Homo sapiens: one gene and its partners. The protein of the gene in region 5 purifies or fractionates together with the protein of the main gene of each other region. This does not show direct contact. Each region holds a gene or a part of one and is shown on either strand. Other genes may lie near its edges.

Region 1 (4,608 bases), on a different chromosome or scaffold from region 5:
AATTTTTTGTTGTTGTTGTATTTTTAGGAGCGACGGGGTTTCACCATGTTAGCCAGGATGGTCTCGATCTCCTGACCTGGTGATCTGCCTGCCTCAGCCTCCCAAAGTGGTGGGATTACAGACGTGAGCCACCAGGCCTGGCCTTCTTTTTTTTTTAAACAATAGAGACAGGGTCTCACTCTGTTGCTGGTCTTGAACTCCTGATCTCAAGTGATCTTCAAGCCTTGGCCTCCCAAACTGCTGGGATTATAGGTGTGAGCCACCACTCCTGGCCAAAGTTGGTGGCTTCTACAGAGTCTTTGAAAGATCCCAGCGGGTATTACTAAAAATTTTTAAGCTCACAGACCACTTTTTGAATGGCCATGGATCCGGAGCCCAGAAAAATAGATATGCATGCAAAAGTTGACATGCTAGCAGGGGGTGGGGGCACATATCTGCAATCCCAGCTACTCAGGAGGCTGAGGCAGAAGGATTGCTTGAACCCAGGGGTTCAAGTCCAGCCTGGGCAACATAGTGAGACCCCATCTTTAAAAAAAAAAAAAATCCTTTCACATGCTATTTTAATATCCAAGGGCTCTCTGAAGCCATCCCTTGGACACAACCCCTGGTCTGAGAAACCAATGAGCCCCTGCAGAATTCTGGAGTAAAAGATCTGACAAAAGGGGATGATGACTCACACCTGAGAGTCACATCTGATTCACACCTGGCAGCTCAACCAATCTGGCACCTGGGCATTTTTGGACACCAATACTATGACACCTGTCACTCAGCCACTACCAAATGTAGTGTTATTGATGTTTTATCAAATGGTTGTGCTTCCTTTCCATCAAAGCTGGGCATGTTGAATGTTATTTTGTAGTTTGCAAGAACCAAAGTTTTCACCGAGCACATGAGGACAAGCTATGTGGAAACAGTGAAAGAATCAAGGCCCAGAACTCAGTGTCTCGGGTGCTTGTCCTATGACCCTGGAGTCCCTGAGTCAAGTCCCTTCCCTCTAGAAGCTTCAGCTGCTTTGCAGAAAAATGAGCTGGCACTAGGTGACCTCTCCAAGCTCCCCTCATGGGCCTGAGCTGTGAAATATCGAATGTCCATGTTTTTATTCATCTATGCATGCTCTGGGCTAACAGCGCAGGGCCCTGCCTCACCTAAACCTCAAGAAGAACCTATTCTATGAAAATAGTTTTCTATTTTATAAGGAAAAATTCCCAGAAAAATTACATTTGATATAGAATTAAAAAAAAAAAGTTTTCAGGGCAACAAATGTTCTAAGAAGTAACGTATACCGTCTTCTGGTCTCAGTTTGCCTTTCCAGAAGAGCATTCAGGGAGGGGTTTCCAGAGCCTTCCCCATGTTAAGAAAAGGGTGCACAGCACAGAAGAGAGCTCCTGAACTCTTGCGGCTGGTCTATCTGTCATTTGCTTCTCTTCCATAAGTTAGTGGGAGAAAACGACGACCAACAAAGAAGGCCATTCCCACTACTGTGTGATCTAAGCCCAAGGGGCCATCCTTTTCCAGATCACCAGACTAATGAATGCTCTGCTCTTCTACCAATTTTAGGCAAGGAAAATTGTGTATCCGTTTGGGGGTTGCAGCAGCAAATCACTCAGACGGCATTCAGCGACTAGCTCAGCAGCGGAACACAGCAAACAGGTACTCCATCTGTATTCCATCTATATTCGTAGCTCAAAAGCAGGATCCTCCCCAGAAGCAAACCCAGTGTGTGATGTGACCTTGGGTGCCACAGCTGGGGTCACACCCCCAACTCTCACCCTGGCTGCTGCTCTCCCAGATCTCAGTGCCCAGGCTGCTGCCAGGCACGGTCACGTCACCTTGCTCCAGACATAAGTTGTTCTGCTTTTTTGCAAATCGAGGAGGAATACGGGAGGAAAGGCCTCGACCTTTGACAGGCACCTGAGGGGAAGAAAGGATGCTGTAGTCTAGCCAAAGGCACCAAGACTGACAAATTCTCCCCAGGATAAGTATCCCAGGTACCAAAAATCACACCACCTGAAAATGCTCCAGAGATGTGTGGAACGCTCGTCTCCCAAAACCTCAAGCAGAACTGCGATGCCAAGCAAAGCACCCCCCAAGAAAGACCTGAAAGGCCAACGGACTGTAATCTGTGTGCAGGTCCAGCCCTGACTCCATTTTAGTATAGCGTTCACGATCCACTTGACTTGAGGGAGACAAATCTCATTCCACTCAGGAATGAGGAGTGGGGAGGAAGGAGAAGCTGGGAGGTGACGGAGGTCTGCATCTTGCCTTGGACAAGTTTCCACTGTTATCACCCTAGAGAAGTCACCCTCTTCAAGACTCGGTTTCTTCCACTGCATAACAGTGATGCCACCACCTATTCCTACATTGATAGAAGGGCCTTGGTAATAGCAGGAACGGGGAGACAATGTGTGCTTGCTAAATACTCCTTTCTTCCTCTCTGCCACCTTGAGCTTGACCGAGAACTCCCTTACCCTCTGGCTCTGGGTTTCCTGGGCATCTGCCAGCCTGCCCTCCAGCCCCATGCCCCCCCACCCTCCGCCCCTCACCTGCACGGCCTGCTCCTTCTTTCTTCTCTCTTCCTCCAGCAGGCGGCGCTGCTTCTTGGTCAGGACTTCGATGAAGCCTTCGCCCACCATAGAACCCACCTCACTCTCCTCCCCGGGGCTGGACCCGCAATTTTCAATGATGGCACCTGAACCAAGATTTCACGAGAAGGAACAGTCTTTCCACTCACCAGGAGACAAGAACAACCCAATTCAACAGGCGCCTGAGATCTAGCATCAGGCTCGACAGAAACCTGGACAGGACTTCCGCACTTTTCTCAGGCCGCCTCTGATCTAACACATTGTTACCCCAAACCAAAGAGGCCCAAGGGCACAACTGAGAGAACACGCAAAGAGCTTAAACCCCAGCTCTGCTCCTACAGCTGTGTGTGACCTCGGACACACCACCGAACGTCTCTGGGCCCCAGGCTTCCTCTCTTTAAAGCCCGGAAGCTGCAGGGTGTCACGGGGATTCAACGGGCTGTGAGCAACACTCGGTGGGAATCCTACCTACTCTGCTCACCTCTACAGCCCCAGAACCCAGCCCAGGGCCTGGCCGAGCTGTTCCGAAAGCTAAGGTACTCAGTGCAAGGGCAAACTCGGGAGGCCCGAGGACTGCATGGCCCCTGGTTCTGCCTGAGTTCTTTCCCCTGAAGATATGAGGATGACTTACTTCCATAGTTCAGGTCAAACTGTTTCATGGCCTCTCCCTGTTCACCTGCCCTCGGAGCAGCCAACTTGGCCTCCTTCTCTGCCTTTTTACTGGAGGCTTCGGGAAGGTCAGCACTGGCATGGGCTGCCCGCTCCAGGGCATAGGGGGAGTGGCCACTCCCACTGCTGCAGCCACTAAGACCTCCAGGCAAGGCCTCGTCTGGGGATCTGTAAGGGAAAGAGGATCTTGTTAACCAGAGCTGGGGAAGGAGGGAAAACACCGCACGTGCACACAGCCTGCACACAAGCCCGGCACCCTGATCTAGGCCCACTTCCTCTAGCTGACTCCTCGGGTGGGGAGGAGCGGCAGGCTGGCCACAGTGCATCCATGTCCGTGTGCAAACATACGTGTAAGGCTGCCCCCACCGGCTCTGCCTGCTCCTGGGGAAAGTGGCTCCCCAGGGCTCTCCCACATGCTATGTTCAGAGTGTAGGGGGGAGAGAGACAAGGGGAATATGCTCAGAATGGAGACGCCAGCATTTCTGCTCCTCTCCAGGACTGCCCTGCCGGAGGGCCCTTGGGGCAGAAAACTGAGGTGAAGCCAAGGGTCAGCCTCTGGCGCCTGGAAAGCTGGATTAGATGCCACCTGAAAGAGTCGGTGTTCCCTGTGGCTCCTTCTCTGGGAGTTTCTCTGCCTTGAATTCTAAGGAGAGTGGAGGTGTGAAGCCATCTTCCTCAGTATGCTGAGGACAGGGAAGGCCTCAGCAGCCCCTGCACCTCCCTGTCCGAGGCACAAGCCAAGTGCAGTCAGTCAACCCAGACTGTGCAGGGGACCCTCTCCTGGTCCCTGAGCAGAGGTCATCACCCGAATGCCTCTGGCTGTGGAAGAGGTGCTCGCCAGACCATGTGCAGCCTGCTCCCCTCTGCGTTTGCTGGGCTCCTGCCATGCTGAGGTGGCAACCCCACCGTGGGGCCACGTCTCCTCACAGTGGAGAAGCAGAACCATCTAGGAAGAGCCACTTCCATGCAGCCACGAGGCCAGCGATGCCCCCTAGGACGCCGCCTGGCAGCAACTCCGGAGCAGAGGACTCTGGTGGACTGACCGGCACCTGGCACTGTGCACAGGCAACGTTCCTCGCTGCAGCGGCCCCTCGGCGGGGCTCCAGGGACACATGACTGGACTCTCAGGTCAGGTGCTGGACAGTGGCCTCAAGAGCACCACTGGGGTGGGGGTGGGGGTGGGAGCTCTAGCCACAATAACACCACCACGAGAAGCAGACAGGCAATGTGGGGGCAGGCAATGGAGACGCGCACAGACGGCCTGGGGGCAGGCCCCCAGCCCCGACACACGGCGGCATCGGCATGCATGCGTGAACTCAGTGCTGCTGAGAACAGAACACAACAACAAAAAGGGCCC
Region 2 (4,608 bases), on a different chromosome or scaffold from region 5:
GAATATTTTCCATCTGAGGTTGGTTGAATCCATGGATGCAGAACCCATGACATAGAGAGCCGACTGTATAGCATACATAAAATTCAGCAAGCTGTTCACTTAAGACTTGCACAATTTATTGTACCTAAGTTTTTTTTTTTAAAAAAGATACTCATAGAATACTTCTAAAGGAAGAAATGAGTAAATTAAGAATAATTCCTCTATTTAGAAGAAGTAAAAACTAGTAGAAGTACAAAGAGAAGAAAGTAGACCAGGCCTACAGAAGAAAAGGGTGACTTGGAAACCAGCCTGAGATAGACATATCCCTAGGGTTTTACACTGGCAAGAGTCTTTAGGTCCAGAAACAGGAGTAAAAAAACAAACACAGGAGCCAATAGTTCCTATCGTTCTGTTTTGGATTCTGTACTTTTTTTTGCCTTTTTAAAAAAAAGATAATTTTAGATTTACAGCTGAGTTGCAAAAATAGTACAGGGTTCCCATATGCCCTATATCCAGCTTCCCCTTATGTTAACATGTTATACAACCATAGGGAGTCATCAAAGCTAAGAAATTAACATCGGTACAGGTACAGACTTCATTCAGATTTTACAAGTTTTTCCACCAATGTCCTTTTTCTGTTTCAGGTTCCCATACTATTTAGTTGTCATGCCTCCTTAGTTCCCTCGAATCCGATAGTTCCTTGACTTTTTCATCTTTCAAAACCTTGACGCTTTCTTTTTTTATTTTTATTTTTTGAGACGGAGTCTCTCTCTGTCACCAGGCTGGAGTTCAGTGGTGTGATCTCGGCTCACTGCAACCTCTGCCTCCCGGGTTCAAGCGATTCTCCTGCCTCTGCCTCTCAAGTAGCTGGGACTACAGGTGCAGGCCACCACGCCCAGCTAATTTTTCTATTTTTAGTAGAGATGGGTTTTCAACATGTTGGCCAGGCTGGTCTGGATCTGCTGACCTCATGATCCGCCCATCTCAGCCTCCCAAAGTGCTGGGATTATAGGCATGAGCCACCGTGCCCGGCCCTTGAGTAGTGGAATTATAGGCATGCACCACCACGCCGAGCTAATTTTTGTATTTTTATTAGAGACGGGGTTTCGCCATGTTGGCCAGGCTGGTCTTGAACTCCTGACCTCAAGTGATCCTCCCACCTTGGCCTCCCAAAGTGCTGGGATTACAGGCATGAGCCACCGTACCCAGTCCCCCCCAAATTTTTTTTTTAAAGGTTCAGGAGAATAGATCTTTCGTCAGTAACTTCTATGAATATTCAGGTAAGATAAGGAGAAGCCTGAAGATTACAAATTCCTGTCATCACAAAGTAATCTCAGTGGAACAAAGGTCTTTGCTAACAACCGACTGAACATCACTCTGGGATGCTCTGGTACAAGGATCCCCTTCTTATGCTGACCTAATAAGTAAAAACCACATAATGGTATAAGGAGCATCAGAGAAATGAAATAAGAAATGGTCAGCATTAGTGAGGAAACAAAATATGGAAAAGGATTTGGATGTTTAAAAAATAAAACAGTGTCTGGCGGCTCATGCCTGTAATCCTAGCACTTTGGGAGGCTGAGGCAGGAGGATCACTTAAGCCTAGGAGTTTGAGACCAGTCTGGCCAACATGGTGAAACTTGTCTTTACTGAAAATACAAAAATTAGTTGGGTGTGGCCAGGCACGGTGGCTCACGCCTGTAATTCCAGCACTTTGGGAGGCCGAGTGGGGTGGATCACCTGAGGTCAGGAGTTCAACACCAGCCTGGCTAACATGGTGAAACCCGTTTCTACTAAAAATACAAAAAATTAGCCGGGCATGGTGGCACACACCTGTAATCCCAGCTACTTGGGAGGCTGAGGCAGGAGAATTGCTTAAACCTGGGAGGTGGAGGTTGCAGTGAGCCGAGATCACGCCACTGCACTCCAGCCTGGGTGACAGAGCAAGGCTCCATCTCAGGAAAAAAAAAAAAAAAAATTAGCTGGGCATGGTGGCATGCACCTATAGTCCCAGCTATTCAGGAGGCTGAGGTGGGAGGATCACTTGACACCAAGAGTTAAAGGTTGCAGTGAGCTATGATCATGCCACTGTACTCCAGCCCCAGTGACAGAAGAGTGAGACCCTGTCTCTAAGAAAATAAATAAAAATTAAGAAAATAATTTTTCTTAAAAAAGATACACTGACGCTGAAGCTGGGCACGGTGGTTCATGCTTGTAATCCCAGCACTTTGGGAGGCTGAGACGGCGGATCATGAGGTCAAGAGATCAAGACCATCCTGGCCAACATGATGAAACCCTGTCTCTACTAACAATACCAAAATTAGCTAGGCGTCGTGGCATGTGCCTGTAGTCCCAGCTACTCAGGAGGCTGAAGCAGGAGAGTCGCTTGAGCCCAGGAGGCAGAGGCTGCAGTGAGCCAAGATTGCGCCATTACACTCCAGACTGACAACAGTGAGACTCTGTCTCAAAAAGAAAATATATATATATATATATACACACATATATATATATATATATATATATATATATATACACACACATATATATATATATATATATATACACACACATATATATATATATATATATATATACACACACATATATATATATATATATATATATATATATATACACACATATATATATATATATATATATATACTGACCCTGTAGTTTCAAGGGCATTTGGGAACTGCTCACATATAACCCAGCCTAAATAAATCATATTCATAAATCTGTGCGGCCTCATCTCTCAATACTTAGACATAACTTTACATAAAGGACCCAGGACTGGGAGATGGAGAGCACATTTTCATGCTGTGTTCCAGGGCTTGGCCTGGATCATCAGTATTAGTAGCAGCTCTCCCTTCCTCGTGTTGCCAAAAAGGGTCAAAACCGTCTACTGAGGGGGTAGGATGGAGAATCAATACATTATAATCTCCATGTTATTGTTTATTTTATTTGTTTATTTATTTTGGACACAGGGTCTGGTTTCGTCACCAAGGCTGGAGTGCAGTGGTGCAATCTGGGCTCACTGCAACCTCCACCTCCTGGGCTCAAGCCATCCTCTCACCTCAGCCTCCAGAGTAGCTGGAACTACAGGGGCATGCCACCATGCCCTGCTAATTTTTGTATTTTTTGTAGAGAGAGGGTTTCACTATGTTGCCCAGGCTGGTCTTGACCTCCTGGGCTCAAGCAGTCCGCCTGCCTTGACCTCCCGAAGTGCTGGGATTACAGGCGTGAGCCACTGCATCTAGCCTCCATGTCACTATAATGCCTTACACGATTCACCACCTTTTTTTTTTTTTTTTTTAAGACAGAGTCTTGCTGTGTCACCCAGGCTAGAGTGCAGTGGCGCAATCTTGGCTCACTGAAACTTCTGCCACCTGGGTTCAAGCGAGCACGTCTGGTTAATTTTTGTATTTTTAGTAGAGACGGGGTTTCATCATGTTGGCCAGGCTGGTCTCGAACTCCTGACCTCCAGTGATCCACCCGCCTCAGTCTCCCAAAGTGCTGGGATTACAGACGTGAGCCACTGCACCCAGCTGTTCACCACCTTCTTACTTTGTTCAGGGCCTTAGTCCAAAGCCCAAGCCCCAACTCACTTGCTACTCTCCCTCAACACCTGTTGCAGGATCCATTATTACCTGTGGCTTACAGTCAAAGAAGCCTCTCTACTGCTGTAAAGGCAAGAGGAAAACTAATGGAGGTATGTTCTTCTGCCCTAAATTAAAACACTAATTACATTTGCTCACTTAAAAAGCAATTTATAGGCCGGGTGCAGTGGCTCACGCCTGTAATCCCAGCACTTTGGGAGGCCGAGGCAGGCGGATCACAAGGTCAGGAGATCGAGATCATCCTGGCTAACACAGTGAAACCCCGTCTCTACAAAAAATACAAAAAAAGCTCTCCCTCCCCCTCCCCCTCGTCTGCGTCTCCCGCTTTCCACCGTCTCCCTCTGTTGCCGAGGCTGGACTGTACTGCAGCGATCTGGGATCGTTGCAGCCTCCCTGCCTGACTACAGGCGTGCGCCGCCACGCCTGACTGGTTTTTGTATTTTTTGGTGGAGACGGGGTTTCGCCGTGTTGGCCGGGCTGGTCTCCGCTCCTGACCTCGAGTGATCTGCCCGCCTCGGCCTCCCGAGGTGCCGGGATTCCAGACGGAGTCTCGCTCACTCAGTGCTCAATGCTGCCCAGGCTGGAGTGCAGTGGCGTGATCTCGGCTCGCTACAACCTCCACCTCCCAGCTGCCTGCCTTGGCCTCCCAAAGTGCTGAGATTGCAGCCTCTGCCCGGCTGCCACCCCGTCTAGGAATTGAGGAGCGTCTCTGCCTGGCTGCCCATCCCCTGGGATGTGGGGAAGCACCTCTGCCCGGCCGCCCCGTCTGGGATGTGAGGAGCGCCTCTGCTCGGCCGCTACTCCGTCTGGGAGGTGAGGAGCACCGCTGCCCGGCCGCCACCCCGTCTGGGAGGTGAGGAGCGCCTCTGCCCGGCCACGACCCCGTCTGGGAACTGAGGAGCGCCTCCGCCAGGCCGCCCGCATCTGGGAAGTAAGGAGCCCCTCTGCCCTGCCGCCACCCTGTCTGGGAGGTGTACCCAACAGTTCATTGAGAACGGGCCATGATGAC
Region 3 (3,561 bases), on a different chromosome or scaffold from region 5:
TTTACAAGGACTACAAACACTGCATCACAAATCGGAGGCTTTGGTAAATAACTAAGTGTCCAACATAGAAAATAACTATTTGGTCAAAAGTATAAAAGGTCTGACCTTATTTGAAATACGAAAAAGCTGAGTACTTGGAAGATACGTGAAAATACTCAGCATAGATATTATGAAAAGCTGAATAACAAAGTAACCTTTTTTCTCAAATTATTTCAGGCCACAGTATATAACGGAACTTATTGCTATTTGAAGTTTCATTAAAAATAGGTTCATATATAGAAGAAATTGTGTCAGTAATACCTCTTCACTAATATAAAATATGCCCCTTTTAGAAGACGTGTTCTCTAGATCTCATTTCTAAAACTCTGTATTTTTCTCATTTCTAAAACTTAAGTATCCAATCAAACTGACCTTACTAAAATCCCACAAATTATAAGTCAATTAATGTTCTGATTTCATTAATTTTGGCTTGTTTCATTTCGTCAGCATTTGGTTTTTTAGTTCCAAAGGCTCCTGCTGCAAGTTCTCTCTTTTTGTTTTGTATTTTCAGCATATTTTCTTCAACAGAGTCCTTTACAATGAACTTTAAAAAGAAAAAAAAAAGTTAAGTAGTTTTTAAGGCATAGTATTTAAAATCTTTATTAAAAAAACTAAATGAAAGATTTGCCTAATGGCAAAAACCGCAATTACTTTTGCACCAAACTATAATAACTATTTAATAGAACTGAACTTTGCTTTCCTTACCCAATATGGTTTTCTTATATAAAGAATATGGCTGTACGAATAGAAGTTACAGATCACAAGATAAGCAAAGCAATAAAGAAAAAAAAAGCAAACTATATAGGCAACTCTGGCAAAATGACTTCAGCATTGTATTAAAAAGGCCATTCTGGCCGGGCACGGTGGCTCACACCTGTAATCCCAGCACTTTGGGAGGCCGAGGCGGGCAGATCATGAGGTCAGGAGATCGAGACCATCCTGGCTAACACGGTGAAATGCCATCTCTACTAAAAAATAGAAAAAGTTAGCCGGGCATGGTGGTGGGCGCCTGTAGTCCCAGCTACTCGGGAGGCTGAGGCAGGAGAATGGTGTGAACCCGGGAGGCGGAGCTTGCAGTAAGCCGACATTGCGCCACTGCACTCCAGCCTGGGTGACAGAGCGACGTCTCAAAAAAAAAAAAAAAAAAAACAAAAAACTATTCCCAGAAATTCAAGAATGAATCTTTAGTATAATTCACAACACTAACAAAGAGAAAAATAAAACGTGATCATCTCATTCCTGATAAAAACTTGATTTTAAAATACCCCAACTAGGAATGAATGTCTCAACCTTACATATTTAATGTGAAACAATAAAAGTATTCTACAACAAAACAGAAACAAGTCAAGAATGGTCACTATCTGCTACTATTTAACATTGTTTAAGAAGACCCAATTACTGCAATAACTAAAGCTATATAATAAAATTTTACTGAAATACATATAAGATCTACATAAATGGAGAAAGGATACTATGTTCCTGTATGGAAACATTCGTTACTTATAAAGAAAGATAGTTCTCGAAAGTAATAATAAATTCAATAAATCTCAAGATATCTTAAATGGGATTTTATAACTAAAATCTAAAGTTCAATTCAAGAGCAATAATAATAACCACCAATACAATTTTCAAAAAGGGTCATCAGAACATTTTACCCTATCAGGTATCAAAACTTACTTTAGGAAACCATAGTTGTTATAAGAGTAATACTGCCCTAAGAAAAGGAAAAGAGATCAATGGAACAGAATAGTCTAGAAAAAGACCCAAGTAATATATATAAATTAGTTTATGATGAAAGTGACATTTCATACTAGTAGGGAAAAAGTTGGAATTTTCAAAGAAAAAAAATGATGTGACAGAACAAATCGTTCTTCATCTGATAAAATAATAAGCTTAGACTCATGTCACAAATCATAAAACAAAAAATAAAATCTTCCAAAAGAACCAGAAGTAAATACAGAATAGTTGAAAAAATGTGAAAATAAAGCCTTCTGTCCTAGGTAAGACCTTAAAACCTAGAACGTATAAAAAAGGCTGACGTTTTAAATCATAAAAATTTTAAAGCTTTTTCATGACCAAAAAAATGCAGTTTAAAGACAAGGAAGAGTATGGGATAAACCATTTTCAACATACATAAACAAAAGATTTCAAGTCAGACTGTATCAGGGAGTCCTTTATACTATAAAACTATTTGTACCATAACTATGAGAACTGGACAGAAGATATAAATAATTCACAGAAAAAATGTTAATAAACAAGATATGTGAAATATACTCAAGGTTTTAGGTAAATGCAAATTAGAACAGCACTTTTTTGGCCACAGAAGCATAAATTAACAATTTTCATATAAATCCTATTTTGAAACCAACTCGATAGTTGATAAAAATTCTAAATCCAGAATTCTAGTTTTCTTAACTTATCCCAAAGAATTACTTGCATCTATGTGAAAAGATTTATATATAATAATGCTCATTATGGCACTGTTTTTATTAGCAAAAAACTTAATGGGTTAAATATATTACGATATATCTATATGGTTTTGTAGAGTAGTCAAATTCAGAGAAAGAAAGTAGAATGGTAGTTGCCAGGGGCTGGGGGGAGAGGAATGGGAAGTTATTATTTAATGGATACACAGTTTCAGTTTAAGATGATGAAAAAGTTCTGGAGATGGATGATTGTGATGGCTGTTGCACAACAACATGAATGTACTTAATGCATCTAAACTGTATACTTCAAAATGGTAAATTTTGTATTTTACCACTATTTAAAAAAAGTGTTCATCTAAATGTACTTATGAGGTAGTCTCCAATGTATAGTTTTAAGGGAAACAAATATGTTGTAGAATAAAGTATAATTCCATTTATCTTTAAAAGAATGTTTTTAAGGAGATGTACACATAACTATAAATGTAGGTGCAGAGAAAGGCCCCTTAAACAGCATATATTAAATTATTGATGAAGGAGGAAAAAGGTGACTTATATTTTGCTCTGCATAATTACACTCAATCATAATAATATATTCATGCATTACTTGCTTAATTGTAAAAATCGTATCAACCTAGTCTTAAAATAGTTTGTTTAAAAACTCACTTTTGTGATGATAACTTCTTGCTTCTGACCAAGTCTATGGCATCTGTCAAAGCACTGATCTTCAGCAGCAGGATTCCAGGCCTAACAAGAACATGGATGAGTTACTTTACTACTGCCCTGATCTTTCAGTGTTTTGCATTTGTCCTTTCATTTCACTAGTATTCATTCATCTTTTTCTGACTGAAAGTTTTCTGCCTGAAGTCAGATACTAACATCACAAATACTCTGGGGAAAAATCCACCCTCCCAATCACTATGATGATAGGCATCCTCCCCCTACTACTACTTCTAATACCTAATACAGGCCCCGACATATGTATCAGCACCCAAAATAAGTATTTGTTGATTAATCAATTTGGTTTTTTTTTTCATTTTTAAAAGAATCTATGTGTGCTTAACAGCAGAAAAAGGTTATACATCCTCTTAAATGACTT
Region 4 (3,540 bases), on a different chromosome or scaffold from region 5:
ATCCACTGCCTACCCATCTGTTCACAACATGGGACAAAGAGCCGTGCACCTCTCCTGAGTTCTAAGCAGCAGTTACCAAACCCAGGGACAAAAACGTTCACTCCAGCTCTGCCCACTGTGAGAAACACATCAGACAATCGCAACTGAGGAACGTCCTACAAAACATGAGACCAATCCTCAAAACTGCCAGAGCCCTCAAAACAAGGGAGGTCTGAGGAACTGTCACCCCAGAGGAGCCTAAGAAGATGGGCGATCAAACGCCATGTGGACTCCCAAGACCGGAAAGGACACTGGGGAGACTCAGCACATCTGAATCACGTGTGGACCCAACACCGCGGGTCGGCGGGGGCTCCTCAGGTGGGAGGACTGCCCCATGGGGGCCTCCACGGGAGCGAGGCAGGGTGGCAGGGAGCTCTCTGCACCGCGCCTGCAACTTTTCTACATCTAACACTATAATCAGCGTGGGGCTGTGGCTCACGCCTGTAATCCCAACACTTGGGGAGGCCGAGGCAGGCGGATCACCTGAGGTCAGGAGTTCAAGACCAGCCTGGCCAATGTGGTAAAACCCCACCTCTACTAAAAATACAAAAATTAGCTGGGCATGGTGACGCGTGCCTGTAATCCCAGACACTTGGGAGGCTGAGACAGGAGAATGCTTGAACTGGGGAGGTGGAGGTGGCAGTAAGCTGAGATTGCACCACTGCACTCCAGCCTCGTGACAGAGAGAGACTCCATCTCAAAAAAAAAAAAAAAAGAAAAGCCGAGTGTGTTGGTGCATGCCTGCAGTCGCAGCTACTCGGGAGGCTGAGGCAGGAGAATCACTGGAACCCGGGAGGCAGAGGTTGCAGTGAGCCAAGATGTCGCCATCGCACTCCAGCCTGGGTGACAGAGCAAGACTTTGTCTCAAAAAAAAAAAGAAAAAAAAATTCCTACTCTAAAATTAAAGCTTTGTTTTAAAAAAATGTTCAAGAAAAAAGTGTAAGACTTGGGAAAAGATTAAACAAAACTGACAAAACATTGGTAATTGCTAATGGCAGGAAGAGGCACAGGAGACTGTGGCAGCCTTCTTTCTACCTCGGGGGAACACACTTGACGAGTTCAGGATAAAAAGTATGGAACACGTAAGTTTCAGTTGAGCTGGGTAGAATTCACATCGGTCAGAGTGTTCTCTGTACTCTGTGTGCCTTGGAAATACTTCACGAGAGGGGTGGGGACCGTGGGTGCTGTGTGGACACTGTGTGACGCCGTAGCCCCCACGCCTGGCCAGGGCCTCACCGCCTGCAACTTGTCCAGGTTGTCCTGCAGCACCTTCTCGGTGTGTCTGTAGGCCTTGGCCACCAGCAGTCTTGCTTCCTGTGAGTGGAGGGAACTGTGTCAGGGGCAAGGCTGGCCGCCTGGCTCCAGCACCAAAGCACAGAAAAGAAATGGCAGACTGGGAACACGGCCTTTCCCCTCCCAGGAGGAACAGGACTCCTCAGCCGACAGGTGGTCTCCTGCCCCTGTGACCAGTGCCAGGAAAGCAGGGCTCCGCATGCCAGCCCACCCACCCACACCCACCCACAGCTGCCTCACAGGCACACATCGGCCCTTCCTGGCCCAGTCTGAAGGACATGTGGGCCCTGGGTCTATTGCTCGGTGTATTTATTTGATATTCTTCCCAGATTCACATCTATAATTTCATTAGGAGCATCTATGTCCTCATTTGAGAAGAAAATACTCCACAGGTGGGAACTACAGCAGAGCCCAGAAGGAAGAAACCCAGGTGGGGCCTGCAGCTGAGCTCCGCTGGGGCGGCCGTGGGCGACCCTTGTGTGGTAGACCCAGGGACTCCCTCCCCGGGGAGCACAGAGGGCAGCGGTGTGGCCAGAGCCGACTCACATGGTCCATCATCTGCTGCAGGCCTTGGCTGAAGGGGCGCCGCCCGATGCCCATGAGGCCCTCCTGCGCCTCAGGGAAGGAGATGGGCCCGATGCCAGGTGCCATCCCAAACTGCTTCACCATGGAGTAGGCGATGCGGGTGACCTTCCTCAGGTCGTCCTGTGCCCCTGGAGGGCGGGGTCGAGACAGAGGCATCCTCAGCACTGCAGGCGCAGAGCAGTGCTGGGCCCCAGGTGTCCCGGTCAGAGCACTGAGGCAGCACCACCTCCATCCCCTTCCTCCCGAGGACCCACCGTGAAGCTGGACAGTGAGGACGTTGGCACCTCACCACTGTTCCTTAAGAGAGTCTTAAAACTTTCCGAAATGCTCTTTTATTTGGAAATCTAGAACCCGGGGGCATACTGGAGCTCACTGCATGGCAGTTCTCAAGCACAAGCCCAGGCCTATGCGAGGCAAACCCATGGACCTGGAGCCCAGGGGCCCCCGGGACCCTCCTTCAGCTCTCTGGATATCCCAGTGCAGTAATGGCTTCAGAACAATGAAGCCGCTTCAATTTTATTCCGTTTCCTGTAGCCATTACCAACAATTAACCAATTAAATGTGTCTAGAGTTGGCATATAGGTTAAGTTTTTGTCCAATTAAATTATCTAAGAAGTCTTGCTTAGCTCCAACTCTCTTATGACCACAACTTATCTTTTACAAAATACTTAATAAATTCAAAGCTACGTCTACACCAGATTCACCCCATGGCATGCACTGGAACAGAAGGAGTCATGCAGGGAAAAGCGCTCTGAAACCTCCAGGGCCCGCGCCGCTGCTCCTCACCAGAAGTGACCTCGTTGAAGGACAGTGCTTCCGAGGCCCGTCCTCCCAGGGCCATGCACATCCGCTCAAACAGCTGCTCCTTGGTGAAGAGGTGCTGGTCTCTGGGGAGCATCTGAGCAAAGCCCAGGGCGGCGTTTGTCCGAGGGGTTATGGAGACCTGGCACAAGGTCAAGATGACCCAGGTCAGTAGGCAGGATGCGTGGGCTTTGAGGAGGAAGGTGTGGGACTAAGAGGTCTCCGTCATTAAAGCGTCTCAAAGCAGGAAGGCAAATGTGCAGCATCCTCTACAACAACAGGGGATCCTAACACTCTAGATGGCCAGCCCAGAGACAGCAGCGTTCCCACCACAGGTGCCTGTTCACACACTGCCGGGAAGTGTCTTCTCATACATGACTAGACAGGCAGGGAGTCAAGAAGACAAGGCCCGTAGAAGACAGCTGAGAGGCGAAGGACAAGTTTCACCCCCGATGGCCGCTGCGCTGACCCCTCACACCAGCGACAGCTACTGAGGGTTCAGAGCAATGAGAACCCCACGATGCTGAGGCAGCAGAGGCTGTCCTCACCTCTGCTGCTCCCCCACAGCCCCACATCAGGTGTGCAAGGAGGTGGCGCGGGGCAACGAGCTAACTCGACAACACGGAACCGCTGAGTGGGAGACGGACGGAGACGGGGCAGGGGCTGGCCCAGCTGCTGCTTCTGAGAATTGTGGCGGCGAGATGGCCACATCCAAGTGCTCTGAGAATCCCGAGGACGCTTAATTTAAAATCTAAAACTAGGCTGGGCGGGGTCGCTCACATCTGTGATCTCGGTACTTTGGGAGTTAGAGGTGGGCAGATT
Region 5 (4,608 bases):
CATCCGTGGGGAACATTTGCCTCACACCATTATTCACAAGCTCTGTCATTAAGAAGGAGTAATGACTTAAGTTTAAAGGATGACTCCCTCAAGTAAACACTGGCCCACAATGTCACCTGTCGGAGGCAGGTTAGAGTTGAGAGCGGCACCCACAGAGAAGGTGGCTCAGGGCCTGTCCCTCGTGAGGGCTAGCCTTTCCCTTGCTTTGAGGCAAGGTGGCCTCTAAACCTCCAACTCTCGCTCCCATCCGGTGACCTGTGACCTCACCCCCAGTCCTCCTGTCTTCATCCATAAAATGGGGATGACTGCGGTGCTCACATCCCAGAGCTGTGACGAGAGTGAAAGTGTGCACCATGCCGCCACCCTCGGGGCCAGACACAGGGCCAGAGAGGACAGACACCTCGTCCCCTGCCAGGTCATTTGCAAAGCCTGCAACACACCACGCTCAGGCCCTCAGCTTGACTTAGCTTAACACTGTGATTTTTCAAAGAACAAGGTGGTTCCTAGAAGGATGTTGAATGGACCAAGCCGAACCAGCACTTCAGGACACAGCCCAGCTGTTCCCGGGCTCGGCTAGGTCCTGCCCTTGGTTCCGCCCCCACCTTTCCCACTCAGTCTCCTCCCAACTCCCCAGCCCGATTCCTGCCCACACCCACCCCTAACTCCCGGTTCCTTCAGGTCCAGAAGCCACTTCTTCCAGAACGCACCCCCTGCCAACCTACCCACCTGCTCCCGGGCACCGGGGGTTCCCCACTCCAGGACTGCACCCCCAGCGGTGGGGTTCTCCTGCCTTGCGTGAAGCAGCCTTTGGGGGAGTCGGGCAACTTTCCTTTCCACGAGTGTCTATTTCATTGGGGTCATACTCTCAATGATATCCCCCCAAGAGTGGCCCTAATGTTAGGAAATCTGTACGAACTAAACTGAGTATAATTGGGTTATTAAGTGTCCGAGGTGGCTACTTGTGCAGAACAATTCCTAAGGACGGGAACGAAGAGAACAGAGAATGCCAGGCCGGCTCCATACCTGCGGGAATGATTCCAATCCGGAGGCTACTGGGGACCAGCACAGCCCGGGGGTGGTTCTGGTCGACCCCGGCGCTCCTCTGCGTCCTCCCAATCAGACCGTGCAGCACCTCGCTGAACATACCATCTCCGCCGACACAGACGATGCTGCAGGAGGAACACAGCCGGTCAGGGCTCCTGCAGGTGCGGCCCTCTGAGCGCAGCAGGCCTGAGGCTTCCAGCTTCAGGAGGGGCAGCCTGCACACCTGGCCCTTGGCAGGCATCTAGAAGTGCGGCTCCTGAAATGTCCCTAAGTGATAAGGTCGTGCCTCTGTGCCAGTTGGCCTAGACCACGTGTACAAATAATGAGATTGATGGCAAATACTGGCTTTCCTTCTGTGAGTCTGGAATTTGGGTGGCTAGGCAGAGAATGCCTGCATGCCTGTACCCCCTCAAAAACACTACACTCTGGGTCTCAGGACTCAAGTTTGCGGGGCGGGAAGAGTACACCTGTGCTGCTGCATTTGTGGGAGCAGAGAGGGTGCACTCCAGGTGACCCGCACTGCGGGAGAGGCACAGCAGTCTGCGCGGGGACGTTTCTCCTTTGCTAAGCTGGCTGTGCAGCCTTGCTCTGTCCCGTCAGAAATCTCAGCCGAGAGCACGACTCTAGCTCAGGCAGCAAATCACCAGCCGTGTGGGTGGTCTTGAGGACCCAAGGCAAGAGCAGAGGGGACGGAATAAATGCGGACAAAATGGGGCATGAGACAATCTAAGGAGAGGAGATGGAGAAAGGGGACAGTGGCTGAAGGGAGAAAGGACGGGTTGGTTTCAGGGTGTGCTGTCCTATGCCGGGGGTAACCCACAGGGAACCAACACTGAGGTGGCAGAATGAGAGGTGCAGGCATGGAGACAGACATGTCACTGCAGCCCAGAGGGAAGGCAGAGGACAGGGCTCAGGTTTCCTGGACATCTCTATAGCCTACGGCAGCCCAAGAGCTCTCATCACCCGGGAAGAGAGGGTTGCAGGGGGAAGGTCCGCCGGTAGAGGAGCGGTGTGAGTCGACTAGGGGGTGCAGCCTGAGGGGCCTCCCTCAAGCATGACAGCATCAAGGTGCCTGCCCATTCCCCAGTGGGTCTGTCTGTGCAGGCGCGACCAGTCTCCAGGGCTGGGATCTCTGCCCACCACCCACCACTCAGGCCACCTGCTTTGGGCCCGGCTCCCATGGGAAGGCTCTTTGCCCTTCCCCGTAGCCTACACCTTGCACCGGGGCAGCCTTCCCAGCGGGGCTGTGGTTTCGAGGACAGGGCATCCTTGAATGGGCAGTGTAGCATCTGTGTGTTAGACAGACAGATCACTCAGACAGACAGCTCAGCCGCAGGAAGAGCAGCCCTCACTGGCCAGGCCTCCCAGCCTCCTGCACGGCATGTCCCTGGGTTTGGGGAGAAGGCGTGCCCTCAAGAGGCGAGGCTGATCCCTTGGCTAGGGTGGGTGCAATAAGGTGCCAGCCCCATCCCTGCTGAAAAGTGAAGACGACTGTCTTCCTGCCAAGCTGCTGTCGGGTGGAGGTGGTGGGAAGAAGTACATGGAGGAGCTGCCATCGGGTGGAGTTGGGGAGATGTGCATGGAGGAGCCCCCTGCTTCCTGGAGCCCATGAACAGAACACTCCCGCATTAGGAGGGGAGCAAAGGGGTCTCCCTGTCAGCACCTGGGGGCAGGGGCTCCTTTTATTTCCCTTTCTAACCTTAGCACCAGCAGAGTGCTGGGACCTGGAGGACCCTCAATAATGTTTGTGGAATGAATAATGATTTCAATAAATATCCGCTGCAATTTATAACACATTGCTCACCGACTCCAGATGGAACAGAGAGAAGAAAACAAAAAGCCAACCAATGACAAGGCAATTAACTACAGGGGAATAGCTAAACTCAAGATGAAGAGTGAAATTTTAAGCATAAAGAACAGCACAGAAGAGCTGGACAGACTTGAGTACATGAATTTGAAAACTTCTACTGGGAAGAATTAATGCCATAAGCAAAATTAAAAGACAATTTCAAAATTAGCAAAAATATTTGCAAAAATATGAATATAAATATGAATTGCCTATTATTTGTTGGATAAGAGAACAAATGACTGAAATTATGGCCAACAAAAGAAAATGGGCCAAAGACATAAAAATCAATTCCAAGAAGCCAGCTAGCCAATAAACATATTTCTTAAAATATTAGAGACTTTCACATGTCAAATTAGCAGAGAAATTTTATACTGATAATACCAAACATGTTGACAAAGACAGTAAATAATATACTATAAGAAAGAATGTAAACTGGCCGGGCGCGGTGGCTCATGCCTGTAATCCCAGCACTTTGGGAGGCTGAGGCGGGTCGCGTGGATCACCTGAGGTCAGGAGTTCGAGACCAGCCTGGCCAACATGGCGAAATCCTGTCTCTACTAAAAACACAAAAATTAGCTGGGCGTGGTGTTGGGCACCTATAATCCCAGCTACTCGGGAGGTTGAGGCAGGAGAATCATTTGGACTTGGGAGGCCGAAGCTGCCGAGGTCACGCCATTGCACTCCAGCCTGGGCAACAAGAGCGAAACTCTGCCTCAAAAACGAAAAAAAAAAAAAAGAATGTAAGTTAATAGAATCTCTTTCGAAAGCAATATGGCTGTACACGGCAGAGATTTTAAAATGTTAATCTCCTATGACTAATTTCATTTCTAGGAATTTACCTTAAAAATGTAGATGTATGCAGAGAGATTTATGTACAACAATGCTATCCTAAGAGCAAAAATTGGAAAGAGCCTGAACATCTACAAGTGAGAGGCTAAATAAATATGGCATGCCCACATAATGGACCATGATATGGGCATTAAAAATAGTAGTTCTGGGAAATCTCTAGGAATTTTGGGGAAAAGAAGAATCCCAAACTGTAAAAACGACAGCATCTAAACATTCTTGATAATGTGCTTGGTTGATTTGCTTCTCTGTCTACACAGCACCGCATAAGCACATCTTCTGAAAGACCGAAAGGGAACAGAACCAGCAAACAACCATTCTCGCCCAGCCCAGCCAGAGAGGAGTGTGTGACTGCACTTTTCTGCCTTTTCTTTCTTGCCTTCCTGTAAGAAGCATGTTTACTTTTACAATTGGTCGTGGGTGGAGGCGGGGGGCGGATTTAGGAAAAGGAGCTCTCAAAACTGAGAGGTGGGTAGAACTTTTTCATTAACAATGGACTTGATGGCGATGAAAGACGGCTTACTCACCCGTCGTATTTGTCTATGTTAATCTCATACAGAGTCTCCTTGGCCTGATTAGCATGTTCAGTAACTGTGGGGAAAAATTACATCACACAGTTTATATTCACATCTGTGAGTCCTCACGTAAAAGGCAAATCATCCATTCTTTTAAAATGAGTTCCTGTAACACCTTCAGGCGGATTTCCTAGATAAAATTCCCTCTTCAATTCTACATCGCTCTTATGGGACGGGATCAAGCTGACCTCAGGGAACGTGAACATGAACCTCTCTCGGGCCACAGTCTGCGCGATGACATGCAGCGTTCCTGGTATTTAATTGCCGGCAAATAATAATTTCTTTGAAAGAGAT
Region 6 (4,608 bases), on a different chromosome or scaffold from region 5:
CATTCACTGCAGAAGGCTAAGAAAAAAACCACCTGTATTTTTTAACTCTTGAGGAACAAATGTAGGTTTCCTATCTGATCAAAGGTAGGATCAGAGATAGATGTACATGAAAAGTAGGAGAAAGCACAGAGAAACTTGGAAATTCATTTGCAAAAAGGGAACCCTACTTATTTCTTAAATACAGACATAAAAAGAAAGTATTATTAGAAAGCTGAAACTGGTTTTGCTCTGGGTTGTTTTAAAATATGAAGTCTAATACATTTGTTTTCAAATTGTCTGAAAACCTTTACAAACTTTCTTTTCCACAAGCTCTTCACTGCCATTCTTCTCTTCCTCGGAGGTTTTTCTCTTTGCTCCTTTCCCTTCAGTCTTTACCATCTGGGATATTGATGTGGCAAGAGAACCTGGAAATAAAGTAAAAGCCAGACAGAAACACAGCTGTAGACTGTTGGAAAAAGTCACTAGTAGACTGGGCTTCATCCTAGCACTCAAAGACAAGGTCATTTGAAGCAAGGACTGGCAGACACAGGCAGACCCAGGAGTTGTGTCTTCATGGTTGGCGGGGAGGGGGAGGGGGGTCCCACAGTGAGAGAACATAAAGTTAAGATCCAGGCCCTGAGTCAAACTGACCCTGCTGAAGGGGTTTGTAAAAGACTTTTCCCAGTGGTAAAAATACATGGTTTTTTTTGGCCTGTAGCATATACATGTTTTTATATCCACAGGCTCTTAGTGTTAAACAAACACTTACAAAATCTGTAAGCAAACTAACATATCCTAATCACGTTCCAAAAAGTAACAAGTACTCGAAAAGGCTCAAAATGAGGTAAATGGCAGCCTTTAAGAACTGTAATACATCCTTTCAAAGGCAAAATAAGGCTGCCACAGCTGTTCCCACTAGCAAAAGGATGAATCTGTACTCAAAGCTAAGGGAATCTGCAGTGTATGTGTTTGAAATGAGAAAAGTCAAGTTTCAAAGAGGTGTGCAACTTAATCTTTCAGTCTCAGCTGTCTTCACCCGTGCGTAACATGGTAAGAATACTGTCATCTCAGAGGGATGTTTGAAAATGGGTCAGGACAAGTAGGAAGAGCATTTGTCACAGTGCCTAACACATCAATCTCCAATAAGGGCAGCTGCTGTCCTAATAAATGACTTGAAATGTTCTCTGCATTTAGGTATAAAAGTATGCAACAGCCAGATGCAGTGGCACATGCCTGCAGTCACAGCTACTTCTGGAGACTGAGGCAGAAGGATCACTTCAGCCCAGGCATTTGAGACCTGCCTGGGCAAAGTAGTAAGACGTTTCTCTTTAAAAAAAAAAAAAAAAAAAAAAAAAAAAGGATGCAAGTACTTATTTACTTACTCAACCTACTCTTTGCCAGACATTTCTTCTTCTTTTTGTTTTTGACACAGGGTCTCATTCTGTCACACAGACTAGAATGCAGTGGCATGATCACAGTTTACTGCAGCCTCCAACTCCTGTGTTCAAGTGATCCTTCCATCTCAGCCTCCTGAGCAGCTGGGACTGAAAGCAGGAACCACTACACCCGGCTAATTTTTTAATTTTTTTGGTAAACACAAGGTGTCTTTTTTTTTTTTTTGAGACGGAGTCTACTCTGTCGCCCAGGCTCGAGTGCAGTGACGCAACGTCAGCTCACTACAACCTCCACCTCCAGGGTTCAAGCAATTCTCCTGTCTCAGCCTACAGGAGTGCACCATCACACCCAGCTAATTTTTGTATTTTTGTATTTTTAGTAGAGACGGAGTTTCACCATGTTGGGTAGGTTGGTCTTGAACCGCCTGTGTCAGACATTTCTTAGTGCTGAGGAAAAAGTAATGAAAATGTTCCTGCCCTCAAGAAGCGTAAATTAGTTGCACAAGGCCCTATTTCTGCAACAGTATAACATAATACACATATGCACCCTGCATAAGGCAACACAGATGTTTCCAACAGTATCTCTCCCAAAGGTCCCCATTAGTGTCCTGTGGCTTACTGTATGGGTTCCAGTTTTCCCCATATGGATGTGAAACTTTCTTCCTTTAAAATTCCAAAACAGATGGCCAGGTGTGGTGGTTCACACCTGTCATCCCAGCACTTTGGGAGGCTGAGATGGGCAGATCATCTAAGGTCAGAAGGTCAAGACAAGCCTGACCAACATGGCGAAACCCGGTCTCTAATTAAAATACAAAAAATTAGCCGGGCATGGTAGCGCCTGTAATCCCAGCTACTCGGGAGGCTGAGGCACGAGACTCACTGGAACCCAGGAGGCGGAGGCTGCAGTGAGCTGAGATCTCGCCACTGCGCTCCAGCCTAGGCAACAGAGCAAGGCTCCATCTCAAAAAAAAAAAAAAGAAAAAGAAAAAGGCCAGGCGCAGCGGCTCATGCCTGTAATCCCAGCACTTTGGGAGGCAGAGGCAGGCGGATCATGAGGTCAAGAGATTGAGACCATCCTGGCCAACATGGTGAAACCCCGTCTCTACTGAAAATACAAAAAATTAGCTGGGTGTGGTGGCAGGTGCCTATAGTCCCAGCTACTCGGGAGGCTTAGACAGGAACTTGAACCCGGGAAGTAGAGGTTGCAGTGAGCTGAGATCGCAACACTGCACTCCAGCCTGCCAACAGAGTGAGACTGTCTTAAAAAAAAAAAAAGAAAAAGAAAAAGAAAAAAAGAAAAATAATAAAATTTCAAAATAAAGACACCTTACAGGTTTGTTATTGACTTCTAAGCAAATTACACTGTAGTCTGAGAATGTAGTCTGTACAAGAAACAGATCATTGAGGCTTATTTTATGGCTTAGTACATAATCAACTTTTGTAAATGGTTCCTGCCCGCTTAAGAATGTGTTATCGGGCCGGGCAAGGTCGCTCACACCTGTCATCCCAGCACTTTGGGAGGCCGAGGCAGGCGGATCACGAAGTCAGGAGATGGAAACCATCCTGGCTAACATGGTGAAACCCCATCTCTACTAAAAATACAAAAAAATTAGGTGGGCGTGGTGGCGGGAGCCTGTAGTCCCAGCTACTTGGGAGGCTGAGGCAGCAGAATGGCATGAACCTGGGAGGCAGAGCTTGCACTGAGCTGAGATCGCGCCACTGCACTCCAGCCTGGGCAACAGAGAGAGAGACAGTCTCAAAAAAGGAAAAAAAAAAAAAGAATGTGTTATCGGCTGGGTGCAGTGGCTCACGCCTGTAATCTCAGCACTTTGGGAGGCTGAGGCGGACAGATCACAAGGTCAGGAGTTCGAGACCAGCCTGGCCAATATGGGAAAACCCTGTCTCTACTAAAAATACAAAAATTAGCCAGGCATGGTGGCACACGCCTGTAGTCCCAACTACTCAGGAGGCTGAGGCAGGAGAATCGCTTAAACCCGGGAGGTGGAGGTAGCAGTGAGCCAAGATTGTGCCACTGCACTCCAGCCTGGGTGAGAGTGTGAGACTCCGTCTCAAGAAAAAAAAAATGTGTTAACTTCTCTAGAAATCTAAAACACTAGACCCAAGATTATATATCCAAAAAATTAAGCTTGTTAATAGTGTTATGTAAATCTTCTAAATTTTTTACTACTTTGCCTTTTGTCCTGTAGATAAATAAGAGACAGCTATGCTGTATCTTCATTTCTTCTATTAAATCCCTTAACAGCCTTCTTTGAACATATTAACTTTCCTTTTTTTTGGAGACAGAGTCTTTCTCTGTCACCCAGGCTGGAGTGCAATGGCGTGATCTCAGCTCACTGCAACCTCTGCCTCCTGGGTTCAAGCGACTCTCCTGCCTCTGCCTCCTGAGTAGCTGGGACGACAGGCACATGCCACCATGCCTGGCTAATTTTTGTATTTTTAGTAGAGACAGGGTTTCGCCATGTTGGCCAGGCTGGTCTTGAACTCCTGACCTCAAGTGATCTACCCGCCTTGGCTTCCCAAAGTGCTGGGATTATAGGCGTGAGCCACCACGCCCAGCCAGAACATATTAACTTTCATTACAACTAAGGGTACTATCTTTATTGGGAAGGTTTCAGGCCACACTGTGAGTGTGAGGATGCTGCAATTTTTTGGTATGGGTCTACAGCCCTGAAGATTGAGAATTCTTATATAAGATGACTGGAGTACTTTTCCTAAAATATAGAAAATATACCTGCATACGAAATGGGATTACCTGCATTCCCCACTGCCCCCACACCATCTATCTCCCAACCTCTCCTAACCCTCACCTTCCCCAACCAGAGGAGCTCTACCTAAGAAGTTCTCATGAGACAGAATCATACCTTTGCCGCAATGGCAACAGGAATCTGCTCTATTCTTCCCTTCTACTTAATTAGGACATGAAAAGGAACATTTTCAGGAGGAGGTAGAGCCAATGCTACTAGCCTCGATACATTTGAGTCAAGCACTCTGTTTAACAAGGCAAATCGGAATAATGAACTCTGAATTTTTAAAAAATGTTAATAACAAAGTTAAGAGTAAATTAGTGAACTCTTAATTCTTAAAGGCAGTTCCAACAATCTGAACCTCAAGAAGTTAATATCACCAGAAAGTGATACAGTATTATCTTTGTGCTTCCAATTAATGTGCCTGTTTATAGTTTTAGTAAACCTTATGCTGTATTATGACTTAATGT
Region 7 (4,608 bases), on a different chromosome or scaffold from region 5:
ACTATTGAATTTTGAGAATTCTCTATATCTTCCTGTCTTAGTCCATTTTTATTGCTATAAAGGAATATCTGAGGCTGGGTAATGTATAAAGAAAAGAGGTTTATTTGTCATGGTTCTGCAGGCTGCACAAAAAGCATGGCACCAAAAACTGCATTGGGTGAATGCCTCAGGCTGCTTCTGCTCTTGGAAGAGGATGAAGGGGAGCTGTTGTGTGCAAAATCAGATGGCCAGAGAGGAAGCAAGAGAGAGAAAAGAAAGGGCCAGGCTCTTTTTAACAACCATGTCTCATGGGAACTAAGAGTGAGGACTCATGCATTCCCTCTGAGACTGGCACCAGGCTGTTCATCAGGGATCTGCCCCCGTAATTCAAACACTTCCTACCAGGCCCCACCTCCAACACTGGGGATCAGATTTCAACCTGAGACTTGGAAGGGCCAAACCATATCCAAACCATAGCACTTCCAGGTATTAGTCCTTTGTTGGATAGGTGGTTTGCAAATGTTTTCTCCCAGTCTCATAGCTTGTCATTTTATTCTCTTAAGAGGGTCTTTCATATAGGAAAAGTTTTTCTTTTGATGACGTCAAATTTATCAGCTTTTGTTTTTATGGATTGTACTTTTGGGGTCAAGTCTAAGAACTCTTTGTATAACCCCGTATTCTGAAGATTTTCTCGTATGTTTTTTTCCCGAAAGTTCGATAGTTTTATATTTTATACTTAAATCCATGATCCATTTTTTTTTTGTTTTCTTGAGACAAGATCTTGCTCTGTTGTTACCCAGGGCTAGAGCATAGTGGCACGATCAAGGCTCACTGCAGCCTCAACCTCCAGGGCTCAAGTGATCCTCCTATGTCAGCCTCCCAGGTAGCTAGGACTATGGGTTGCACCACCACAGCTGGCTAATTTTTTTCTTTGTTTTTTTTTTTTATTTTTTGAGACAGGGTGTCACTCTGTCACCCAGGCTAGAGAGCAGTGGTGCAATCATTACTCACTGCAGCCTCAACGTCCCAGGCTCAAGCGATTCTCCTGCCTCAGCCTCCCAAGTAGCTGGGACTATAGGCGTGCACCACCATATCCAGCTAATTTTTATATTTTTTGTTGAGACAGGGTTTTGCCATGTTGCCCAGTCTTGGCACATTTAATTTTTTAAAAAGTTTTTTGGTTGGGCCTGATGGCTCACGCCTGTAATCCCAGCACTTTGGGAGGCCGAGGTGGGCAGATCACGAGGTCAGGATATCGAGACCATCCTGACTAACACAGTGAAACCCCGTCTGTACTAAAAAACACAAAAAATTAGCCGGGTGTGGTGGCAGGTGCCTGTAGTCCCAGCTGCTTGGGAGGCTGAGGCAGGAGAATGGCATTAACCCGGGAGGAGGAGCTTGCAGTGAGCCAAGATAGCGCCACTGCACTCTAGCCTGGGTGACAGAGTGAGACTCCGTTTCAAAAAAAAAAAAAAAAAAAAATCTGTAAAAATGGAGTCTATGTTGCTCTGGCTGGTCTCGAACTTCTGGGCTCAAAAGATCCTCCCACCTTGACCTCCCAACCTGCAGGAATTACAGGTGTGAGCCACTGCACCCAACTTCGTGATCTATTTTGAGTTAATTTTTGTATAAGGTGTGAGGTTTAGGTCAATGTTCATCTTTCAACTTTTAATACTAGTTGTTCCAGCATCATTTGTTGAAAGGCTGTTTGTGATGTTTTGAGTTGGCTAGCTCCTTGATATCACCTAAATCTTATCAGTAGTCCATTTCCAAGCTTCATTGCAAGATGACTTGCCAATCAACTAATCAAGCTTGTCATTAGACAGAAAAATCTCTTTCCTATTAATGTAGAGTATAAGGGCTGAAAGTTCAGGTTTTGGAACCAGTTCCTGGGTTTTTAAAACTAGCCCTTCTGCTTATGAAGTAACTTCGTAGCTTAAAACAACTGTCTGTTTAGGTCACAATTCTGTGGGATGGTATTTTGGACTGGGCTCAGCTGCACAGTGGTTCTGTGTCTGTGTCAGGTCTCAGATTGACTTAGGGCTGATTGTTGGGGATGAAGGGGCCTCTGCTGGGATGATACATCATGTACATTCCCTGTGGCTTCTCATTCTCCAGCAGGCTGTTCATTGCTGCTTTGCATGATGCTTGCAGGGTCCCCAGAACAGGAAGCATGGTAGCTACAAGTCCTCTTGAGATGTAAACTCAGAATTTATGCACTGTTCCTTCTGCCACATTTGTCAAAGCAAGTTACGGGGCCAGCTCAAATTTAAGAAGTTTGGAAGATTGACTCACCTGTTAATGGAGAAGCTGCAAAAGGATTGTGGCCATTTTTGTAATCTGGCAATGCTGGTAAATTACTCAGTTACTCTGAGCATCAGTTTCCTTATTTATAAAATGGGGATAATAATAATAATGAACTCATAATAATACCTAACTTATGAGGCTTAATTCATGAGAATTCAGTAAGATGATGATGATGATGATGATGATGATGATGATGATGATGATGAAGGTAGAATATGGAAAAGCTCAAACTATTTTTCCTCTGCTCTCACTCCATAACAACAATCAACACAGAAGACTTCTGTGACCAAATGTACGGGGTTGCAGTGGACATCAGTTGGGTATCCTCCAATTCAATTCTGACACTGTCTCCCTGAGGACAGCCCACAGGTTGAGGGCTCAGTCCCTCAAGATCATCCCCATCTTCCTAGTAGTCCTGAGTCCAGGCTTCTGGAACTTCTGACTGACTGGCTTCAAGTTGGGGTTCCCACAGTACCCTCTTTGGGCTTGATTGATTTGCTAGAGTGATGCAGAGAACTCAGGGAAACACTTAGATTTACCAATTTATTACAAAGGAAACAGATGAAGAGATATGTAGGGTGAGGTGTGTGGTAAGAGGCACAGATCTTCCATGCCCTTCCGGGGCACGCCACCCTCCAGGAACCTCCACATGTTCAGCCATCTGGAAGCTCTCCGAACCTTGTCCCCTTGGACCTCTTATGGAGACTTATTGGATAGGCATGATTGAAGCATGGGCAACTGTGTCGAAATGTGATTGAACAAAAAGAATGTGACCTGATACTAATAGACTGAGTGGGGTAACCCAGCAAGGCCTGTCTGTTCAGATTTTGTCTTGGTCTTCCTGTGCAATATTTCTTCCTCCAAGGTATGGGGCAGGACCCTCTCTGGACTGAGGGTCTTACAACCCACAATCAAATTAGAGTCCTGCCTTGAGTAGGTGAAAGGAGTTCAGGAGAATACCAGAGAGATTCTGTTTCCTTACACCAACATTATAACAAAAGACTGTAAAAAGGATTATTAGAGTTATAAGCCAGGGACCATGGATATATATGTCATGTCACAGTAAGTAACACTTTTTTTACAGTACCAGTTAATATTCATTGAGTATTTTGTGCCAATCTCTGTTCATGCATGAACTTGTTTTATCCACCCTACCAACCTTATGAGATAGTTAAGGAGACAGCAAGTAAGTGAAGGGGTTGAAATTTCACTCAGGCAGTCTGGCTCCAGAGCCAACACTTGTCCTTTTTACTCCTGTAGAAGGTGTATGAATACTTAGCACAACTCCTGGTATATAGTAAGTGTTCACTTCAGTATTTTTATTGATACTTATCCTCATTAGACTCATTCACAGAAGGAGGCACTTTCTAATTGTTTCCCTAGGTTTTTGAATTTGGGGATTTGGATTTTTCTGGAACGTGGAGCTCTTTCACTGACCATGATAAGCAGAATAGCAGAGGGAAAAAAAAAGAAAAGAAAGGCAAAATGAGAACGCTTGTGGAGATAAACAGAGAAGGCAATGGAAGGCCAGAGAGAAAAAGAGTAGTCATGTCTGGGTCCCTTCTTGTTGAGGCCTGGAACACAGCCTCATTGGTTACTGGGCATAAGGATTCTGATGCTGAAGAAGTAAAGGGTTCTCCTCTGTCAGAGTGGTAAGAGTATAATCCGTGGCCCTTAAGAAGAACATGGACAACCCCTCCCATCCCCCACCATGCCACATCTGTACACACATACACTTCAGTATGCCCTCATACCTACTAAGAGGGGACAGATTTTCTTTGGAACTTAGAGCCTAAAAGTTCCTTAGAAGATGGGAAACAATTATTTCTCTAGAAGCCTTGAATTTTCCTAACTAATCAAGGCCTTCTCAGTTTTCAATATGGACCCTAACAAGTATAATACATTGTAGAACATTAAAAAAATACCCCCAAGAAAGGTAGGGTCAGCCTTGGAAGGTAAAAGGCGTTGTTCAATAGGAAACCCAACAAGCCCTGAGTCCCCTGAAGCTCTCCTTTGTGCTAGAACCTACTGGATTTGACTGAGTCAACTGCATGAAACCTTGTTGTTAGTGGTGACCTCCTCTTGAACCCTAACAGGCCTTATCTACTGCTGTTACCCTATTGTCTCCAGCCAGAATGACCCTTGACTACCTGGCACTGAACCATGCGACCCACCCTCTTCTCCTGATACAGACTGTGGGTTAGCCTCCTTCATGCTAGCCTGGCTGCTGGATTCTGATTGGCTTCTACCATTTGATCACCTGGACAGACATGCATGCCACTGCCTGTGTTCCTGAGGTACCCTCTCAGGCTGCTCCACCCA

The links.
Region 1: the proteins of CERK (region 5) and PRRC2B purify together in Homo sapiens (affinity purification with mass spectrometry; one large-scale study listed by BioGRID and IntAct). This does not show direct contact.
Region 2: the proteins of CERK (region 5) and TAF13 purify together in Homo sapiens (affinity purification with mass spectrometry; one large-scale study listed by BioGRID and IntAct). This does not show direct contact.
Region 3: the proteins of CERK (region 5) and HLTF purify together in Homo sapiens (affinity purification with mass spectrometry; one large-scale study listed by BioGRID and IntAct). This does not show direct contact.
Region 4: the proteins of CERK (region 5) and SPG7 purify together in Homo sapiens (affinity purification with mass spectrometry; one large-scale study listed by BioGRID and IntAct). This does not show direct contact.
Region 6: the proteins of CERK (region 5) and ILKAP purify together in Homo sapiens (affinity purification with mass spectrometry; one large-scale study listed by BioGRID and IntAct). This does not show direct contact.
Region 7: the proteins of CERK (region 5) and ALDH18A1 purify together in Homo sapiens (affinity purification with mass spectrometry; one large-scale study listed by BioGRID and IntAct). This does not show direct contact.

The regions. Positions count from the first base shown.
Region 1 is NC_000009.12:131,476,555-131,481,162, reverse strand, and holds part of PRRC2B (protein PRRC2B), read right to left. Parts: intron 3,420-4,608; coding exon 3,214-3,419; intron 2,690-3,213; coding exon 2,544-2,689; intron 1,912-2,543; coding exon 1,770-1,911; intron 1-1,769.
Region 2 is NC_000001.11:109,069,504-109,074,111, forward strand, and holds part of TAF13 (transcription initiation factor TFIID subunit 13), read right to left. Parts: intron 1-4,608. UniProt on the Homo sapiens protein: The TFIID basal transcription factor complex plays a major role in the initiation of RNA polymerase II (Pol II)-dependent transcription.
Region 3 is NC_000003.12:149,031,790-149,035,350, forward strand, and holds part of HLTF (helicase-like transcription factor), read right to left. Parts: intron 3,210-3,561; coding exon 3,129-3,209; intron 584-3,128; coding exon 431-583; 3' UTR 1-430. UniProt on the Homo sapiens protein: Has both helicase and E3 ubiquitin ligase activities. Possesses intrinsic ATP-dependent nucleosome-remodeling activity; This activity may be required for transcriptional activation or repression of specific target promoters.
Region 4 is NC_000016.10:89,552,299-89,555,838, reverse strand, and holds part of SPG7 (mitochondrial inner membrane m-AAA protease component paraplegin isoform 1 precursor), read right to left. Parts: intron 2,861-3,540; coding exon 2,704-2,860; intron 2,046-2,703; coding exon 1,879-2,045; intron 1,354-1,878; coding exon 1,276-1,353; intron 1-1,275. UniProt on the Homo sapiens protein: Catalytic component of the m-AAA protease, a protease that plays a key role in proteostasis of inner mitochondrial membrane proteins, and which is essential for axonal and neuron development.
Region 5 is NC_000022.11:46,706,820-46,711,427, forward strand, and holds part of CERK (ceramide kinase), read right to left. Parts: intron 4,331-4,608; coding exon 4,267-4,330; intron 1,170-4,266; coding exon 1,024-1,169; intron 1-1,023. UniProt on the Homo sapiens protein: Catalyzes specifically the phosphorylation of ceramide to form ceramide 1-phosphate.
Region 6 is NC_000002.12:238,189,569-238,194,176, forward strand, and holds part of ILKAP (integrin-linked kinase-associated serine/threonine phosphatase 2C), read right to left. Parts: intron 405-4,608; coding exon 285-404; intron 1-284. UniProt on the Homo sapiens protein: Protein phosphatase that may play a role in regulation of cell cycle progression via dephosphorylation of its substrates whose appropriate phosphorylation states might be crucial for cell proliferation.
Region 7 is NC_000010.11:95,646,205-95,650,812, reverse strand, and holds part of ALDH18A1 (delta-1-pyrroline-5-carboxylate synthase), read left to right. Parts: intron 1-4,608. UniProt on the Homo sapiens protein: Bifunctional enzyme that converts glutamate to glutamate 5-semialdehyde, an intermediate in the biosynthesis of proline, ornithine and arginine.